Linked DNA regions of Homo sapiens. The protein of the gene in region 1 interacts with the protein of each later gene in a pairwise test. Each region holds a gene or a part of one and is shown on either strand. Other genes may lie near its edges. The genes, in order: ELAVL3 and RNF32.

Region 1 (6,505 bases):
CGGCAGGACCTTTGTGGGGCTTCGTGCCCTGCTCTGGGGCCCAGGCGGGGCTGGTCCACATTCCCAGGCCCCAACAGCCTTCAAAGATGGGTAAAGGAGCTTGCCCTCCCTGGGCCCCCCACCTTGGTGACTCGCCCCACCACCCCCAGCCCTGTCCCTGCCACCCCTCCTAGTGGGGACTAGTGAATGACTTGACCTGTGACCTCAATACAATAAATGTGATCCCCCACCCAAACTTGTCTGTGTCTGCCTCGCTTTGCTGGGGTGTGGACCGGGGTGTGGGCAGGGGTTGAGCGCAGGGGACGCAGCTTTCTGCAGATCCCACCCGGGCCTCCCCCACCATCTGGGGATCACTCCTGAAGATACCAGGTGGATGGACCCTGGACCATTTCTGTCTTGAGCATCCATCCGGGCCCGTGTCCCACCTTCCCTGGGTCTCATCTGTGCTCTGTGGAGGCCAAGGGTTCCCTCCCGGGGCCAAAGCCCCTGCTGCAGACAGACCCAGGCCCAGAGAAGGACGGGGGCCTGGGCGCTACTACACAGGCTGCTCCTGCGTGCTCCCCGCGCAGCGGTGCAGAGATCACCCAAGGCCTTAAGATTCTGAACTTTTATTTTCTGGCATGAAAAGTACAAATAATTAAACAATTCCATGTAAAAGTCTGTTACCGCGGCCAGGCCTGTGATCCCGGTAATAAATAGTCTAAACGCAACGCGAAGTGTTCTTGTTGGGTTTTTTTTTTTTTTTTGTCTTTTGTTTTGTCTTTTTTTTTTTTTTTTTTTTTACAGTTTTTTATCACCTCCAACATGGACTCTGTCGTGATTTGAAACCTTCCGAATAAATAACAGGATGAAGGGAGGGGTGGAGGGGCTGAGCCCCCTCCCCCCTGGCCTGGCCCCTGCCCCCCAGGGACGTGGAAGCCCCAAGTCCCCCTCGCCTGGGAGCCCCGGCCTGGCCCCCTGCGGGGAGGGGCTGGCCTCCAGGGAGGGGGCCTGGCTGGGCTGAGTTTTGTGTTTTAGAAAAAGAAGTCCCCTCCCAGTCTTGGGGGTGGCAGGGGCCTAGGCCTCGGTGGGGGGGGGGTGTGTGGGGAGGTGCCCCCTCTCTGGAGCCTGGCCCCCCCCAGGGTGGGGGACAAACCCAGCCCTTATTGCTCGGACGCCCTGCTGCAAGCTTCCCACGCGGACGTGCGTGTTCCCGAATGCAGAGGGCGGAGGGGAGAGAGCCCCAAGAGACAGCAGGGGAGAGGGGTCCCTGCCCTGCTGCAGGGGAGAGGAGAGAGGGCAGGGAGGACTTAAAACCACGAGAATAAATAGGTTCGTGTATCAAGAACAAGCTAGGGATTTCACCAGCTAAATAGGACTGAAAAAATTCTCAAGACAAGAGCAAAAAGAATCCCATTGGTGACCTGGACGTCGCTGGCCGTGGGGACTGTCCCGCAGAGCACACGCCCCCGCGTGCCACTCGGCTACCATTACTGTTATTAATAATTATTATTACTTTAATGATTCCACTTCCCCTTTTATAAATAAATTAGGCATAACCATGTCTCGGCAAAACTTAAAGAAACAAAGAGAACATTGTCGTTCCTTTAACTTGCAAACCGGATGAAGTAACAGAAATATACACGGATGTCCTTACAGGGCAACGAGGAGAATAAATAGTTAACATAGCAATAAGTTAAAACTACAAGAAGCTAAATTCAGCAAAAAAGTACAAGAAAGTTAACTGGTGCCAGTTTATGTCTTTTTTTTTTTTCCTTTTTTTTTTTTAAATCTCTTCTGTGTGTTTTCTTTTTTTGTTGCTTTTTTTTCCTCTTCTGTTTGTGTTTTTTTGTCGCTTTTTTGATTTTTTTCTTTTTTGTTCCTTGCAGCAGAAGCTCCACAGACGTTTAATAACAACACCGGGAGGGGTGGGGGAGAGAGAGCTGGACAGTCAGATGGGGGCGCCATAGCCAGACACCAAACGTGGGGACACCGGGGGAAGGCAACTTAACTATAGCTAAAGTCGGGGGTTTTGCAATTCTCAGTTCCGATGGGGCCGCTGAGTGGGGTGGGGAGCGGTGCGAGGGCTCCCAGGGGCTCCGGCCTGTGGCTTCTGTTGGAATTTTTTTTTTTTAAAGAAAGAAAACTAGGGCGATGCAATGTCCAGACAGAAGCCGGGGGCCGGGGCTCGAGATCGGGGGCTGTGTCCACTGCAATCTGGAAAGACGAAAAACCCAACAAACCGAAAGGGGATAGGTAGGTGACAAGTGGACGGGAAAGGAGTGTGGGGCTGGGCCTTTGGGCCCATCCACCCCACCCTGGGCCTGGCGGGGAGTGCCGGGGTCTTGCTGCCGGGGAGGCCCAGTCCTGGTGGGGGAGGCTCAGGGCTGGGCCTCTCCCTCAGCTGTGTGGGCCAAGGCCTCGGCCCAGGGGGAGGCTGAGCCCCGGGGACAGGGGTGTCCTTTGGCCTCAAGTGTTGTGGGGGGGGGGGCTGCCTCCAGCCCACCGTGACGCCAAGGTGGAACGAGGTATCGTGTGTCTCAATGCATGTGCGCTGCGTGTGCACGCCTGTGTTCGTGGGCGCCAAGGAGACCGCTGGGGGTCCAGGAGAGATCTCTGCAGAGAACCTGGGGGCCAGGGCGAGGGGGCCGAGAGGGTGAGGGAGCGTCTGGGGCAGGGTCTGGGGTGGGACCTCCTGCCTGGGCCTGTGGGATGCTATGGGCATATGTCTGCGTGTTCCTGGGTGGTGTTTGTGTTTCTCCGTGACCTGGTGTCCAAATTTGATGTCCAAATATCTATCGCTACATTCACGTGTGCACGTGGACAGGTGGATGGATTCGTGTGCCCACATCTGTGGTCTGTGTCCACATGGACGTAGCCCCAGCTTCTGTCTCTTTCTGTCTATCCCTGTCCACGTGTCTGAGTTTGGCCAACCAGTCCCTTAACGTGTCTGGGGCATGTCGCTGTGTCCGTCTGCGTCTGTCCGTGTGTCCCCGTGGTGTGACTGTCTGCGTGGTTGTTTCTCTGTGTGGCCCCGTGGGCTGCTAGCCCCTAAGCCCTGCTCCCTGGGCCCCCCCCACCCCCGCCCCAGTTGGTAAACATAACCTGCCAAAATATTTTCTTTTTTTTTTTTTGTCTTTTTTTGTGTTTTTTTTTTTCAAGTTCAAGAATCCCCAGTAAAAATTCTCCACGAGGTCTTTTTCCCTTTTTACAAAAATAGAGTTTTTCTTCCCCTCCCACCCCCCTTTTTTTTTCATTTTGTTTCTGCTTCCAGCCCCACTGCCTGCTCCCCCGCATTCCACCAGGGGGCACTGGGCCGGGGGTGCCCACACCCCTCCTCACGGTTCGCTTTTTTGGGGATTTTTAAACCTGTTCCTCCTACCCCAGGCCCCACCTAGGTGCTGGGGAGGCCTGGGCAAGGGGGTCTGGGAGGGCACCCCCTGGAGCCCCCCAAGCCATCCCATCGGGGGTGGTCGAGGGTGGGGGTGGGGGCACATCTCTGCATTCTTTTTAGCCGAAAAAAGAAACAAAAACCTTCACCATGAACCAAACCAAGACGAGAGAGTGAACAGCCCAGCCTGGGGTGGGGGCAGGAGGATGGGGCGGGGGATCCCCGGGCACCCCCCCAATTCCCTGCAGACCCTCCCACCCCAGAGTGCTCACCCTGTGGCTTCCGCAGGGACGTGGGGCCCTCGCGTCGTCCGTGGGGCTGCCTGTGCTGTCTCTCTTGGGCCCCTTCTCTCTCTCTCTCTCTCTTTCTCTCTCTCTCTCTCTGCTGCCCGGGGAGGGGGTGGGAGGGCAGGCGGGGTGGGCTCACGCCTTGTGCTGTTTGCTGGTCTTGAAGGAGACCTGCAGCACGCGCTCGCCCAGGCGATAGCCGTTCAGGCTGGCGATGGCCATGGCCGCCTCGTCATAGTTGGTCATGGTCACGAAGCCGAAACCCTTGCACTTGTTGGTGGTGAAATCACGGATGACCTTGACGTTGGTGACTGCCCCAAAAGGCCCGAACAGCTGCCACAGCACGCTCTCGTCTGCCTCCGGTGACAGGTTGTACACGAAGATGCACCAGCCGGCGCCCGCCGCGCCCCCCGACAGGCCCACGCCCGCCAGGCCGCTCATACCATCGATGGCGATCGGCGAGAACCTGGCGATGAGCGACAGGGGACTACTTTGGGGGTCACGCGGGCTCTGCCCTGACCCCCCGCATGCTTCTGACCCCGTTGTGACCCTTCACACCTTTATGACCCCTGACTGTGCCATGACCTTGGAATGGTGTGACCCCTGCAATGCAATTTTTTTTTTTAGAGACACGGTCTCGCTCTGTCACCCAGGCTGGAGTGCAGTGGTGCAATCATGGCTCACTGCAGCTTTGACCTCCTGGGCTCAAGCAAACCTCCCGCCTCAGCCTCCTGAGCAGCTGGGACTGTAGGCAGGCGCCCTCACACCCAGCTAATTTTTTTTATGATTTGTGGTGACACAGTCTCACTATGTTGCTTAGGCTGGTCTCGAACTCTCAGGCTCAAGCAATCCTCCTGCCTTGGCTTCCCAAGTAGCTGGGACTACAGGTGCACCACTATGCCCCACTAATTTTTTTTTTTTTTTTTCTGAGACGGGGTCTTGCTCTGTTGCCCAGGCTGGAGTGCAGTGGGATGATCTCAGCTCACTGCAACCTCTGCCTCCTAGGTTCAAGCGATTGTCCTGCCTCAGCCTCCCGAGTAGCACCTGCCACCACGCCCAGCTAATTTTGTATTTTTAATAGAGATGGGGTTTCTCCATGTTGATCAGGCTGGTCTCGAACTCCCGACCTCAGGTGATCCGCCCGCTTCGACCTCCCAAAGTGCTGGGATTACAGGCATGAGCCACCGCACCCAGCCATGCCCCGCTAATTTTTAAAAATTTTTGTAGAGGTGGGGTCTCGCTGCGTTAGCCAGGCTGGTCTCGAACTCCTGGGCTCAAGCAATCCTACCACCTTGGAGTTCCAAAGTGCTGAAATTACAGGTGTGAGCCACTGCACCCGGCTTTCCTTTTCAAATCATATATTTATTATCATCAACTTCATCTTCCCTGCAAGAGTTTGTTCCAGCCCCTGAACAACACCTAGTAAGCACTTGGGAGGTGTCTGTTGAATGAATTAATGAAAGGACAGAATTGGCTCCACTCACATTCCTCACTGGCAATCCCGCCCTTGGATTAAACCCCTCAGCTGGGAAGGGAGGACCCAAGGGCCTGAACCATTCAATCCTGACCACGAGGAACAAACTACTCGCTCCTTCTGGCCCTCTTTGCACAGGCTTTTCCCACTGCTAGGAACTCCCTTTCCACTCTGCCTTTGTGTGGATGTTGCCTCAGATGGGACTGGGGGGTCTCTGCTGCTGGGTCTCCGTCACCCCTTCTTTTTTTTTTTTCTTTTTGAGACGGAATCTCACTCTGTCGCCCAGGCTGGAGTGCAGTGGCACGATCTCAGCTCACTGCAACCTCCGCCTCCTGGGTTCAAGCAGTTCTCTGCCTCAGCCTCCCGAGTAGCTGGGATTACAGGCGCCTGCCACCGTGCCCAGCTAAATTTTTGTATTTTTAGTAGAGATGGGGTTTCACCATCTTGGCCAGGCTGGTCTTGGACTCCTGACCTCGTGATCCGCCTGCCTCGGCTTCCCAAAGTGCTGGGATTACAGGCGTGAGCCACCGCGCCCGGCCTCTGTTACCCCTTCTACTTCACAGCTTTCATCACCATTCATTTCTCTGTCTCCTCCCCCACTAGACTCAGACTGAGATCTTCTTTTACATTTTTTAATTATTTTTTTTTTTTTGAGATGGAGTTTCGCTCTTGTTGCCCAGGCTGGAGTGCAGTGGCACGATTTCAGCTCACTGCAACCTCCTCCTTCCATGTTCAAGCGATTCTCCTGCTTCAGCCTCCTGAGTAGCTGGGATTACAGGCATGAGACACCGCGCCCAGCCACATTTTTTAATTTTTGGAGATAAGGTCTCGCTCTGTCACCCAGGCTGGAGTGCAGTGGCACCATCATAGTTCACTGCAGCCTCCAACTCCTAGGCTCAAGCGATCCTCCCGCCTCAGCCTCCTGAGTAGCCTGAACTACAGGCATGCACCACCGTATCAGGCTAATCCTTAAAAAAAAATTGTAGAGAAGGATCTCACTATGTTGCCCAGGCTGATCTTGAACTCCTGGCCTCAAGTGCTCCTTGCCCCTCAGCCTCCCGAAACACTGGGAGCACAGGCGAGAACCACCACGTCTGGCTTTGATGTCACATCTCTCAATGGCCATGCTACTCCAAGACCCAGGCAAACAAGGCTAAGCCTGCAGCCCTGGGGGTGAGCTGGGGAGGGGTGCATCAGGGGCATGGATGGTGAGGGGTGGGGACAGTGGGGCGGGGTCACTGTTACCTCTTGACGCCGTAGGCCATGTTGAGCAAATTGTCCAGCCTGTGGAGGCAGAGGTGGTGGTCAGAGGTGGCTTCCAGTCACGCCCCCCTGCTGTGACACCGTCGGCCTGCCCTCCCCACCCCCACCCAA
Region 2 (6,141 bases), on another chromosome or scaffold:
AGTACAAATATATCATTATAAAAACTGACCATACGCTTGTCCATGATGCAGATGTCATCATAGGTCGAGACATTTATGTTTTATAAGTTCAGCTTCTAGATTCGGGGGTGCCTGTGCAGGTTTGTCACTGGGTGTACTGCAGGACGCCGATGTTTGCGGTACAGGCGGTCCTGTCGCCCAGCTCATGAGCACAGTCCCCAACAGTTAGTTTTTCAGCCCGTGTCCCTCCCCAGTCGTCCTAGTATCTCATGTCACCATCTTTATGTCCACGTACTTGAAGAAACTTAAGTCGTGTAGAGTATGTTCCCTGACCACGGTGCAGCTGAGGCTAGAAATAAATTTTTTTTAAAAAAATAGAACTATCTCACGTTTGAAAATAAACGGTTCTAAATAACGTATTAATCGAAGACAAAATTATAATGGAAATGAGAAGAAATTTCAGTTGAATAGCAAAAGTACATATCAAAACTTGTGGAATGGAATATTTCATCAAAACTTGTGGAAAGGAATATTTGCGTCTGCCATGCTAGGTTTTCTTCTGTGGAATCAAACACCTGAGTGTGGAATTAGTTTGTGATTCTTATGTATATTAAAATATCCTAAGCATTTATTTGCTTTCTTGCTATATTACACCAGTTACCATTAAGACTGGAGCACTAAGTGTTAAGGGCCACCCTCCCTGAGATTTATTTGGTATATATGCAAAACTGACAAGTCTGTTTCTTTCAACAAGTGCCTACTATGGTCGGTGCGTGTACTGAGCTCTTGAGAGGGTTTAAAGGCAGGGTGTGACGACGACAGGTGCAAAACCCTTTAAAAACCCTGGATGCTATTACCAGCGTTAAGAACAGTCCTGGCCCCAGGACTAATAAAGGAGATAGGACCTGTATGCCACAGTGACTGAGGCAGAAGGAGGCAATAGGTGACATCAGTATTGGACCTCAGGGTCTTTGTCATCAATAGGGCCACTTAGGAGTCACCCAACACAGTTGTTCAGAGCATATGAGCTCTATTTCCATCTAAAGTGTTTGAAGGAAAATGTACTTTAAAAAGTCCTAATGATGCTGTCTTTGGAAGTTTATCTTGAGCTAAGTAACTCATTTATGTAACATCAGGACAGCTGGGATTGCTCCAGGCATCCTGTAGAGAGAGCGATACACTCACGTATGATAGAATATATGCACACACAGGTGACACTGTAACATAAATGCATATAGATGTACATACATATTTATATGTGGCCCGCACACTTACTCTGTTCCTCTCTCAAGTGGCTTCTGAAAGCGCACGCACAGCGATACCCATGCTTGGAGTTGGGAGGTGACACCTCCAGGAATGATAACTAATGCTGTGTTAAATAACTTTGCATATTTAAAAATGTGATCGGTAACTTCTATGACCGTGGTTCTTAAACCTGAATGGGCCTCAGAATCACCTGGAGGGCTGTAAAGCATATCGCAGGGCTCACCCCGCGGACTGTGGCCTCGGCAGGCCCGGGGCAAAGCCTGAAAAGCTCTGCTTTTCTCACAGATTCCCAGGAGCTGAGGCTGCGGGGTCTGGGCCCCACCTTGAGAATAAACACCCAGATCATATCGATCATTTCATTCAATTGATCAGTCATTCCAAATAGTACTTTTATGTCCAAAACTAATCTCAGAACATACCTCACAAGTTGAAACACTTTGCAAGGTCTGGACTAGAATGTGACCCTTTTTCTGAGGTATAATTTTGAAGGAAGAAAAGATCTTGCTTTTCAGGCATATGTGGAAAGTATCTCACACTTAAAAACAATTTACAGAAAACCTGAATTACAAAGCATCAATTGGAGGTAACTGTGTATATTTCCAAGTAATTTTTCCTTTTACAATGTATAGAGAACTCTTCTACTTTCAATAATTTATTTAGATATTATTAGATATTTGAAAGGCCAAGGAATAAAGAAAATTAAAATTAAAGCCTTAGGAAACGTTACCGATTCAAGACCCTAAATTAAGATACAGCTGCTTGGCAATTATAATTACATTCAGAGTGAAAGAGAATTTGACTCATAAATAGAAAAGCAGCTTCCACCAGGCTTCCAAGTACGGCTAATCCCAAAACACAGGTGCCTGGAAGATCCTCAGCCACCCCCTTCATTCAAACCCCAACCCTTGTGGACTGCCTGCTGTGTTCACAGAATGTTCTTTACTCAAAAGGACCTCTCATCCTTAAAGCCAATACTCATTCTTCTAACATCCCAGGGAGAAAGGCAGCTCATAGTCTCCACAGCACTCGACCCTGCGCTGTCTCACGATCTTTTTGCAGAAGGGAGAGAATTGGAAGAGAACTCCATGTCCTCAAAGGCACCTTCAGAAGTCTGGTGATTTAAATACACACTACGTTCTGCCAGGTTGCTCCACATTAATAAAAAAAAAAAAAAAAGAAAAAGTGAACGTGAGGACTCCAGTAGACTAGAATATTTGAAACCTGGACAGTCATGGACCATCCAAAATGCATTTTCCCCATCACATATCTAAATGTGTGAGATCTCCACGGGACTTGTTCATTTCATCCTTCTTTGTGCTTCAAGCCGGATTCCATGAAGCAGATGTAACTGCTGAATCGGCACTTCTCACTGCTGGACAAATAACCCCCCGAATTTCAGTGACTGAAAGCCAGAGCTTCGGTCTCATAGGACAGTTCAGGTGTCCTGGCTTGCAGGCAACATGCCAGCCTGTGGGGCTCGGGAACTGTCTCCCTCTGCCCTTTATCTGCCACCCCCCGGGCCTGGAGAACACCCAGAAGAGACATGAGCCACGTCCATCTGGAAGAACTACTTCACGTGGCCCCACCTGGGCATGGGGGAATGGGAAATGTCATCTCTGGGTGAGCCACAGCTCTGTACTTGAAAGGACAAGCAAGAGGGCAGGAAGTGTGGCTGACAGTCACCATTGGCACAACCTTTTACACACCTTATTCTCCTTTGCTTTACACTCTTCACATGTACTAAAAAGGAGCCGCTGGTGTGGCCCTGAATGAGCCACCTACCCGTGCCTCAGATGACACTGGTGGCCACTCTGTAATGACTCAGACCTTTCTAGTGTAGGATGGCTTGAGCCCGGGAGGCCGAGGCTGAGTGAGCATTGATGGCCCCAAGCACTCCAGTTTGGGTGACAGAGCGAGATGCTGTCTCCACCAAACCAAACAAAAATACCAAAAAAAACAAAGTACTGTATTCAATTAATAAACGTTGAAGTGATAATATTTTGGATCTGTTGGGTCAGATACAATATTAAAATTAATTTCACCTTTTAAAAAACTTAATGTGACTGCCAGAAATTTTAAAATTACATACGTAGCTCACAGTATGTTTCTATGGGACAGAGCTGATCCTGCGAAATTCGAACTTTTCTCTCAACTTTTAATTTCAAATGTGTTCCTGCTAATGGTCAAAGCTCACAACCAAGAAAACAGCAGGGGAGGGAAACAATATACCCTTTTCCCCTACCCTCCTAAATTCTTCAGCTGGAGCCCTGTAAGTTAAGCTTAACGAGAAAATTACACGGATTTACTTAGTAAGTCCCATGTGGTATGGAAGCCTTCCTAAGGCAGCGCAGACCGGAAGAGATAGTGCAGACCCGAAGAGGCAGCGGCGACCCGAAGGGGCAGCGGAGACCCGAAGAGACAGTAACGCCTGAGCGCTTTCTATGCTAGGTTGGATGAGGACACAGAGGTCGTGGGGAAGCATGACAGGACAAGGGGTGAGCTGAGGGTGGTCGGTGGGAACCACGGCAAGGCCTGTGTGCTGTCTCCTCCCGGCTCCCTCCGTCTTTGGAGACGAGGGTGCCTCTCACAGGAGGGTCCTGTGACCCACTTTAGGGGTGGGGAGAGGTCAGACGGTCCCTCCTGCAGCTGTCATTTCTCAAATTCCTTTGGGAAGGAATGTTTTTTCCTTAAAATATTCAGTATGCCAAGGTGCCGTATTTTGGGGTAGTGTGTTCTGGACTCCATCAGATAGGGGTTCTTGTGGTCATCTGTCCAGATTATCTGGATTTATAGTTAAGTAAAATAGACATATATCTATTTCCCTAAAAAGTATTATTCGAAGACAGAGACGAGGAAGGTTACCAAAATAGATGGTCAGGCTCGAGAGCGCTTCCCTGCAACCTCCACCGAGCTCAGGTGTGAGCTTACCCGCCCCCGCCTCCTCCTCAGTTCACAGAAATCAGCCACCGCATCCTGTGCTCATACAACACCAACATTGAAGAGCTCTTTGCAGAAATCGATCAGTGCTTGGCCATAAATCGAAGTGTTCTTCAGCAGTTGGAAGAAAAATGTGGCCATGAGATCACAGAAGAGGAATGGGAGAAAATCCAAGTGCAGGTAGGTTTGGCTGGCAGCCTGGCAACCAGCAGACTCAGCTGCAGCTGCAGAGGCTGTGGGGAGTGGCATGTGGGGGGAGGTCGAGGACTCACTTTGGGGAGCCTAGGAGTGTCAGGCCCGGGGTGCAGCCGTGGAGGCTGTGGGGGTGGCATGTCGGGGGAGGTCGAGGACTCACTTTGGGAAGCCTAGGAGTGTCAGTCCCGGGGTAACCGCTGCCCTAGCTGCCCCTGCACCTGTGGTAGGACTTTCCTCATGGGCTTTAGGGTGACGGCAAAGGTCCCTTCAGTTTGAAATTCTGGAAGTTCCTGTTGGATGTTGCTTATCACAGGTGGGTTACTAACCCTTTCCACAGTTCCCAGGAGTAACAGAGTATATGTGTGTGTATATATATATGTATATATATAAATAAAATGCATGTGATTTTAACACAGAATGAAACTTCCGCATGTTTCGAAGACCCATGTCTCGGGGCACATGGTTCGCATTTCAGTTTAAGTAACTTTCTGCTGTGATGAAACTAACCCGCGTGGCCTCTTCCCGTCCTGTGTGCCGCAGGCTCTGCGCCGGGAGACCCACGAGTGCTCCATCTGCCTGGCCCCTCTCTCCGCTGCTGGCGGTCAGCGCGTGGGTGCAGGCAGGCGTTCCAGAGAGATGGCCCTCCTGTCCTGCTCACATGTGTTCCACCATGCGTGTCTGCTGGCACTAGAGGAGTTCTCCGTGGGAGACAGGCCTCCTTTCCATGCCTGTCCTCTCTGCCGCTCCTGCTACCAGAAGAAGATTCTTGAATGTTGAATTCATAGTCAAGGAAAGTTAGGTAATTCTGAGGAAAAAAGTTTACCATCATTTTGGATGAACTGCATGAGTTCTGGGTTAAGTACTACAATGTAATCTGTTTCCCAGGGAAATAAGCTATTGGTAGTTGTAGGAAATCTTAGTATATTTTAAAAGCTGACATCCCACCTAATTTTAATCTTTGGTCTCTAAAAAGTAAATTTCAAATTTATGAGTTTAATCACTTCAAATATGAATAGCAAAAAATGAGAGCTTGCTTACTTCTAAAAATTGAGGTTAAGATATAGCTAGTGTCTGAACGACACTCCTTAAAGTAAGTTCCAAATGTAAAACACTCCTTAAGTTCCAAATGTTTTCCGCTAATAGTCTGTCCTAAAGCCTTTGCCATTCCTAATACTCGTTTTGTAATAATTGCTGTATTTCTGTGTAATAAAATATAAAAATAAAATATTCAGTGGTATTCAACATCAAAAAAGTGCAAATTTTAATGTCTTAGAGCAATAAAGACTGTTTTAGTTCACACATTTTAAAAAAAAGTGAACCTTTTTGGATAAGAATTGTTTTTGTCACTGGTTTACTATTACTGGGAGCTTGGTTATTTACAGTAACCAGTTACAGTCTCATCGGTTAGGTTACCCCTAGCCGAGTAACAGATAAAGCCCCAACTCTCAGTGGCTCGCTGAAGACACATGATTTCTGAGGTGTCCAACCCATGTCAGCCATGGGTGAGGCAGGGCGAGGGTACACCATGTGTGACCCTGGCTCCTTTTGTCTTGTGACACAGTCTCCTTTGCCCCCGAGTCCCCAGTGAATCCTGTCACTGCTGGTGGAGGGGCAGGAGGACATTGTTCCAGGCCATGCTTGGGAGTGGCGCTCATCACTCCAGCCACAGTAACTACAAGGGGCAAGGAAAGGGCAGGGTGTAGGCCTAAGAGGAAGAGGCCAAGTGGGTGTGCACATGGCATGGGCTCAGAATAACCCAGCATC

What was found.
Region 2: the proteins of ELAVL3 (region 1) and RNF32 interact in a two-hybrid assay, tested with the Homo sapiens proteins (one study listed by BioGRID and IntAct).

Annotation. Positions count from the first base shown.
Region 1 is NC_000019.10:11,450,734-11,457,238, forward strand, and holds the end of ELAVL3 (ELAV-like protein 3), read right to left. Parts: intron 6,416-6,505; coding exon 6,377-6,415; intron 4,145-6,376; coding exon 3,793-4,144; 3' UTR 593-3,792; downstream 1-592. UniProt on the Homo sapiens protein: RNA-binding protein that binds to AU-rich element (ARE) sequences of target mRNAs, including VEGF mRNA. May also bind poly-A tracts via RRM 3. May be involved in neuronal differentiation and maintenance.
Region 2 is NC_000007.14:156,671,502-156,677,642, forward strand, and holds the end of RNF32 (RING finger protein 32), read left to right. Parts: intron 1-4,194; coding exon 4,195-4,362; intron 4,363-4,793; coding exon of another isoform or gene 4,794-4,874; exon of another isoform or gene 4,875-4,917; coding exon 4,918-5,154; 3' UTR 5,155-5,629; downstream 5,630-6,141. UniProt on the Homo sapiens protein: May play a role in sperm formation.